Homo sapiens: one gene and its partner. The protein of the gene in region 1 purifies or fractionates together with the protein of each later gene. This does not show direct contact. Each region holds a gene or a part of one and is shown in the gene's direction. Other genes may lie near its edges. The genes, in order: C5orf15 and SPPL2B.

Region 1 (3,926 bases):
ATATAATTTATACATATAGGTGTATGTAATGATTTTTAAGGAATTTTATCTCACAGAGTTTTTTTTTTTTTTTTTTTTTTTTTTTTGAGACAGAGCTTCACTTTGTCTCCCAGGCTGGAGAGCAGTGGTGCGATCTCGGCTCACTGCAACCTCCACCTCCCAGGTTCAAGCGATTTTCATGGCTCAGCCTCTTGAGTAACTGGGACTACAGGCGCAGGCCACCACGCCTGGCTAATTTTCGTATTTTTAGTAGAGACGGGGTTTTGCCATGTTGGCCAGGCTGGTCTCAAACTCCTGGCCTCAAGTGATCCACCCACTTCAGCCTCCCAAAACGCTGGGATTACAGGCATGAGCCACTGCACCCAGCTATCTCATAGAGTTTTATGTCCTGACCAATCATGAGCATTTTCCATATCCTTAATATTCTTTAAAAACATTATTTTTTTTTGAGACAGGATCTTGCTATGTTGTCCACGCTGGTGAACTCCTGGCCTCAAGTAATCCTCCCACTTCAGCCTCCCAAGTAATTGAGATTATAGGCGTGAGCCACTGTGCCTGGCTAAAAACATACTAGATTCATGGTTTACAATTTTTGGTTCAGAAATAATATTGTGATGAACATTTCTGTGCTGTTACCAGTTTGCTGGATTACATGAGGCACAAGAGACATCTGTAGGACAGGATACATCACATTTAGTGTGAGGGTACATGTTGGCACTCTACAGTCCCAAAGCTGAATAGTTAAGCCTTTTAAAATCCTTAAAGGGAGATCAAACACACAGTTCCTTTTTAATACTTACTGGTCAGGAAGTCTCAGTTCTTGACTTTATTGTAACTTGCTTTGTAACACTGTAAGCCACCTTCCCCTTCGGGGCCTTGATTTCCTTACCTGACAAATAGTGAAACTGGACCTGATAATTTCAAAATGCCTTCCTGCTTTGAGAATCAGTGACTCTAATAATAGTTCAAAAAAAAGCAAACCAACCAACTCTTCTGGTTATTTGTATTTAGTGCTATATTGCTAGCTTTGTAAGTGTTTATGGGTAGACAGAACCTTGAGTGCTGCTGATATTATATCCCACTGTTTAGTGTTTGGCCATCTCTATTATGAACATCAAAGGGACTTGTTAAACAAGTAGGTTCCTGGGCTCTACCTCAAGTACTAACTCAGTCTCTGAAGATAGAGCCTAGGAATCTGAGTCTTTAACAAACATTCCTATATATATTGAAATTTGAGAAGCACTGTTTAGCCTTCTTTACAAGATGGAAAGCAAAATAGCTTTTGTTTTTTTTTTTTTTTGAGACAGGGTCTTGCTTTGTCACCCAGGCTGAAGTGTTGTGGTGCTGTCATGGCTTACTGTGATCTCTGCCTCCTGGGCTCGAGTGATCCTCCACCTTAGCCTCCTGAGTAGCTGGGACTACAGGCAAGCGCCTCCATGCCTGGCTAATTTTGTATTTTTTGTAGAGATGGTGTTTCACCATGTTGCTTAGGCTGGTCTCGGACTCCTGGGCTCAAGTGATCTGCCTGCCTCGGCCTAAAATAGCTTTTTTGTTGTTGATATTTTGTGTTTTATATTTAGAAACCTAGAAGAGAGATATTTTACTTGTTATAAAAATGTTTACCATATTCTCTGTTTTCTCTTTTGCCTATTTAATGACTTCTGTTTTCCAGATTTTTCTTCTGGTTCAAAGCAGGAAATGGCGTGATGGCCTTTGTTCCAAAACAGTGGAATACCATCGCCTAGATCAGAATGTTAATGAGGCAATGCCTTCTTTGAAGATTACCAATGATTATATTTTTTAAAGCACTGTGATTTGAATTTGCTTATGTAATTTTATTTGCTTGACTTTTTATATGATATTGTGCAAATGTTTGCCATAGGCAATTGGTACTTAAATGAGAGGTGAGTCTCTCTTTTGCCTTGGTGCTTTGGAAATTAAATGTCACAAACGAGTATATAATTTTTTATCTGTACTTTTAGAGCTGAGTTTAATCAGGTGTCCAAAATGTGAGTTAAACATTACCTTATATTTACACTGTTAGTTTTTATTGTTTTAGATTTATTATGCTTCTTCTGGAAGTATTAGTGATGCTACTTTTAAAAGATCCCAAACTTGTAACTAAATTCTGACATATCTGTTACTGCTGACTCACATTCATTCTCCGCCATTCAAATACTATTTTTTATCCACATTTTTTTTTGTTCCCAAACTGTAATGTACAAGGATATGTGTGATAATGCTTTGGATTTGAGTAATATTTTTTTTTCTTCCAAGAAAACTGCTTTGGATATTTTTAGATAATTTAAACATAATTTAGGATAATGATATTGCTCAATCTGACCACAATTTTAGGTAAAACATTAAATGTGTCAAGAAATCTTGGCAACAGAGACTCTGCAGCTTGCAGTGGACATAGATAAAATGTTACAGAGATACTATTTTTTTGGTTGGAATTACTATATTAAATTTAGAAGCAGAAACTGGTAAAATGTTAAATACATGTACAATTGCTTTTAGTTAGCAATTGATTGTAGCATGGGTTCCTCCAAGGTTTCAAGCAATGGGCAGAGTTTAAAATTATATCAGATTCGTTTACTTCGTTTATTATTTTACAGTAAATTTGAATAAATCTTAGGGGTCATTATCACTTAAATAATACTGTACCTAGGTCTTTCAAATTAAAATTATACCTGAATGAAGTTGTTTGTATACATAAAGGATATTTGTGTACAATTACCTTTTTTCCCCCACACTTGTTTTCTTTGTTTTTGTTTTTTATGGCAACTGGAAAGTATTTACTATGGGATTCATTTATGTCTGTCTTTCTATCATAAAGAATTGATCAATATGTAAATATGTGATTTGAACCATGGTTGACTTACAAGTGTCACTACAGCTTTTTAGAAAACATAGCCCTAATATATGTTAAGCAGGACCCGGGTGAGCCAGTGGGCTTGCGCTTTATGTAGAGCTGGAAGAAGGCCGTCCATCCTGTCTCTTGGGCGGACAGTGTACTTTCCTAATAGGGAAGGGAAGCACAATGGAAATACCCCTGAACCGTTTTATTGCAGTAATTTTTTTCATATCTGAAACTATTATTTAATATTTTGAATAAGATTTTAAAAAATAAATGGCAAAGATATAAATCTATGATTTCACGAGTGTGTTTCTGTGTTTCATTTCAGTGATGACATTTAGGTGGTGACGGGGAGTAGTGTATGTCTGGGAGCAATCTAACCTGATTCACTTGCAGGTGTCCCTCTCAGCAGTGCAACTCTGCCTCTATGAATTCCACTTACATTGCTAAATTCTTCTTTAGGTCCAACTTACTGCGAGGTACTGAAGTTTATTGAAAACTGTAGCAAAGTAGGATGGCAAAGAAAAGCAAAGTGGCTAAATCAGTGTGCTCTTTCTAGCATCCTGGGGTCACTATCTGGGATGGAAGGCTCCCCGAGTGTGGAGGCTCATCCCCCTTAGTGGATTGGGGGATTCTTGGGTACTTCCTGGTGGTCCAGCCACCTAGGTCACAGTGCTGCAATTAAGTAGCCTCAGACTTTTGGAGCATCAGATCATACATTGATTAAAAATGCCCCTGGAGTCTCACAGAGGCACTTGAGCACTAGGAACTAGTGCTAGGGACTAGGCACGCAGGGGCCACAGTTGAGCCTCACAACCTCATGCCACCTCCTCCTGTGTGGTGTTATCTGCTCCTTTCTCCTAGACTAGACTCACTTTCTGGTCAGACCTGAAGCTCTGCACCCGATTTTGGTACTAATGGTATAATAGATTACCTTTTAGCTCCCGTTTCTGTGTCTTAGCTGAAAAGGAATGTGTTGGAACTTGTGGGGCAGACAGAAACAGACATTTAGAATTTGGGCAGTCAGGCAGGCATGTTATATTAGTCTGTTCTCACATTGCTATAG
Region 2 (3,810 bases), on another chromosome or scaffold:
GGGCACAGAGCTGGGGGCCCACCCACTGCTGCGGGTGATGCCTGCCGCTCCCTCCTCTGGGCCCCCAGGTCCCCCCGGGGGGTAATAAGACGCAGTATGATGAGATTGGCATTCCCGTGGCCCTGCTCAGCTACAAAGACATGCTGGACATCTTCACGGTAGGTCTGCGCCGGCTCAGACCCACGCTCCCGAGGAGATGGGGCAGGGGGCTTCGGGCTGGCTGCCGGGGGGGTTTGTGCCTCAGTTGGTGGGATCAGGGTGGTGGGTGAGGCGTGGCCCCTGCAGGCCAGGGTCTCCAGCCCCAGCCCCACAGCCCACAGCTGCACGTCGACCCATGGCTGGCGGGTGGCTCTGACGCCTGCCTCCGGTGTGTTCCTTGAGGCAGCGTTTCGGCCGCACGGTGAGGGCGGCGCTGTATGCGCCTAAGGAGCCGGTGCTGGACTACAACATGGTCATCATCTTCATCATGGCTGTGGGCACCGTCGCCATCGGCGGCTACTGGGCCGGGAGTCGGGACGTGAAGAAGTGAGTTTCGCATCGTGCGTGTGCTGTGACGGGGTCGGGCGGCTCTGACACGGGCCGGGACGGCCAGTCTTCCAGAACAGCAGTGAGTGCTTTGGCCTCGGCAGGCACGGCTCGCCCCGTGGAGCCCTTCGTTTCTTCCTCAGGAGGTCCTGGGACAGAATCAGTCTCTTTTCCTGCCAGGGTGGGCTCCGGGCACCTGGTGGGTGTGTAGGGCTGGGCAGGTGTGGATGTGGCAGGTACGGGCGTGGCAGGTGCAGGGCTGGGCAGGTGGCTGGGGCCAGCTACCCTCTTCCTGCTGAGCCGCCTGGGTCTGGGGAGGCCCCATGTCCAGGGCTCTTTATGCAGATCCAAGCTGCGGTTGCTGCCCACACGCCAGCCTCTGGCCCGGCCTAGTGGCCACCCCAGCTCAACCCAGGGACGCGGGCCCTGCCACCCTCTGCTGTGTGGTCTCCTCTGCCCTGGGGACGTTCGGGGCGGTTCCTTGCACTTCAGTCCCCCCCGGGTCCCCTCCTGCTCCCGGGTTTTCTGCCCCGTTCCCCCGGGTGGCTGTGGGCTCCCGAGCCCCGTGTCGGCCAGCCGGCCCCAGGGCCCCACGACCCCATGGTGTCTCCCAAGAAGGTACATGAAGCACAAGCGCGACGATGGGCCCGAGAAGCAGGAGGACGAGGCGGTGGACGTGACGCCGGTGATGACCTGCGTGTTTGTGGTGATGTGCTGCTCCATGCTGGTGCTGCTCTACTATTTCTACGATCTCCTCGGTGCGCGGCCCCGGGCGGGTGGGCCGCGGCGTGGAGATGCAGCCCGCCCCGTGCGGAGGGAGGGTGGCGTGCGGGCCTGGCCCCCGGCCTCACGGCCCTGCCCCTGCAGTGTACGTGGTCATCGGGATCTTCTGCCTGGCCTCCGCCACCGGCCTCTACAGCTGCCTGGCGCCCTGTGTGCGGCGGCTGCCCTTCGGCAAGTGCAGGTGAGTCTGCCCTGCTGGCCCCGACGTGCCTGACTCTGTGCGGTGATGGCCACGGCCCCTTTGCCGCCCCATAGCCCCCCATGGTGCAATATTGCTCAGAGTCTACAGCAGGCGCTCCCTCAGTGCTGGCCTGGGGCTCCTAGGCCCAGGAGCAGGGCGGAGTCTGGGCGAGCTATCAATGGAGCCCACCAGCAGCCAGGCGCCAGGGGTGGCGGGGGGAGGGTGCCCTTGTCCCCAGGAACCCTGCCCCAGGTCGCAGGCCGAACCCTGGGTTCCCCAGGGTTCTCCGGGGAACCCAGAAGGTTCCCCACAGCCCAGAGCTTGGCCTGGCTCTTAGGGGTAAAGGGAGCTGCTGGGGGGTCTCCAACAAAGTCAGACCTGGGTCTAGGAAGCGGGGCTAGCCCAGGGGGAGACCTTTTTGTGTTGCCGTCCCTGGGTGAGGAGGTGGGAGGTCTGGAGCAGGCAGGGCCTCGGGCGAAGGGGCGCAGCGCAGGCGAGGGGCTCTGTGGGTACAGCCCGTGGCCCCCAGCGCCTGCCCGGGTCGGGCTCTGCCCTGCCCTTGGGGTGCCTACTGTTGTCATCGTGTGGGATGTGGAGTTTAATGAGGACAACAGAGTGGGGGCTGCCACTCTGCAGGGGGTGCCTGGGCCGGTCCCAAGGGTGGTGGGCAGTGGGATGAGGCCGGGAGCTGGTGGGCTTGGCTCTGACTGCCCCGTGCCCCCCAGGATCCCCAACAACAGCCTGCCCTACTTCCACAAGCGCCCGCAGGCCCGTATGCTGCTCCTGGCGCTCTTCTGCGTGGCCGTCAGCGTGGTGTGGGGCGTCTTCCGCAACGAGGACCAGTAAGTGCTGCTTCCCCCGGGCCCCGGCGGGCAGCGGAGTCCTCGGGTGCACCAGGGCTCCTGGGGCCCTGACTCCCTGCCCTCCCTGGAGGCCGCCCCAGCCTGGAGCTGCTTCAGCACCGCGTGATGAAGAGCCCTGGCCCCGGGCTGCTCTGACAGGGCTGCGAGGGCGTTTCACCTGGGGTTTGTCCGGGTGTCATGGGAACCCTGACTGGAATCCGGGAGGAGAGGCCGGAGCCCCTGTGGCCAGGAGCCACGTCCTCCAGCCTGGATGGGACTCCTTTGTGGGGCATCGCTGCCCAGGGCCACAGTCTGTCCCCCGCTGTCCCTTTCCTGGCACCCACGTGCACGCCGCAGGTTCGAGGCCCAGGGTGTGGGCACCAGGGCACCCGGTCCTCTTGGTCATGACTGCTGCGGCTTCTGAGCAGTGGTGGAGGTGGGGCAGGCACTGCTCCCCCCACGCTCACCTCCCACGTGGCCTGGACTTGTGGCTGCCTCCCGCTGGCCGGGCCTCCCCCATGAGGCCGAGTGCCTGGTGCCGTGTTGGGAGGACAGAGCTGGCCCGTCCCCGCCCGGTCCCCACCGCTGTCGCTGATACCATCTGGCACTTCCTCCCAGCCTTCCTGAGGCAGCCAAGTACGCTTGGCTTTGGTGTGTATTGGAGCCACGGCACGTTTAACTGGCAGAAGGAAGATGTGAAAATATTTTGAATCCTTTGTACACAAAGAGAAAATGAATCTTTTCAGTTATTTCCAAGCCAGGAAACTCGCTCCGTCACATGAAGTTAGAGCAGGCCTCAGTCAGCTGGGCGCAGGGGCTCACGCCTGGGATCCCAGCATTTGGTAGGCCAAGGCAGGACGATCACTTTGCCCAGGAGTTCAAGACCAGCCTGGGCAACAAGCGAGACGCCCTATTTAAGAAATAATATAAAATCAGAAAAAATAACTGGCCGCAGTTCTCTGGGTGCTTGAAGTACGTGGCGCCTGGAATTGGCTGTACCAGCGTCTCCCATGGAGGCCTCTGCTGTTAGCAGCCGCCCCGCCCTGGAGATGTTTTTATCCCATTTTCAAATGAAGCCTTTGATGTTTGAGACGCTGAGGAACGCTGGGGAACTCGTCCAGCAAGTGACAGGCAGAGCCTGCATTGGGGGCAGGGGCCAGCGGGGAGGGGACTCTGGGGCTTCGTGGGGCCAGGAGAGAGCCGAAGTTGCGGCTGGCTGCAGGGGCCGTGGCCTTGTGCAGGAGGCAGTTCTGTGCTTTGCCCCAGGGCACCAACCGCATGGCAGCCCCACCCACTGTGGACCCAGAGGTTCTTTGAGGAAACCTGGTGTGGCACAAGTTTTAATTTAATAAACAGTTTGGGCACGGGGGCTCATGCCTGTAATCCCAGCACTTTGGGAGGTGAGGCGGGCAGATCACTTGAGGTCAGGAGTTTGAGACCAGCCTGGCCAACATGACAAAACCCCATCTCTACTAAAAA

What was found.
Region 2: the proteins of C5orf15 (region 1) and SPPL2B purify together in Homo sapiens (co-immunoprecipitation; one large-scale study listed by IntAct). This does not show direct contact.

What each region holds. Positions count from the first base shown.
Region 1 is NC_000005.10:133,954,737-133,958,662, reverse strand, and holds the end of C5orf15 (keratinocyte-associated transmembrane protein 2 precursor), read left to right. Parts: intron 1-1,672; coding exon 1,673-1,804; 3' UTR 1,805-3,153; downstream 3,154-3,926.
Region 2 is NC_000019.10:2,338,684-2,342,493, forward strand, and holds part of SPPL2B (signal peptide peptidase-like 2B isoform 2 precursor), read left to right. Parts: exon of another isoform or gene 1-68; coding exon 69-158; intron 159-381; coding exon of another isoform or gene 382-385; coding exon 386-525; exon of another isoform or gene 526-607; intron 608-1,140; coding exon 1,141-1,283; intron 1,284-1,392; coding exon 1,393-1,489; intron 1,490-2,214; coding exon 2,215-2,331; intron 2,332-3,810. UniProt on the Homo sapiens protein: Intramembrane-cleaving aspartic protease (I-CLiP) that cleaves type II membrane signal peptides in the hydrophobic plane of the membrane. Functions in ITM2B and TNF processing.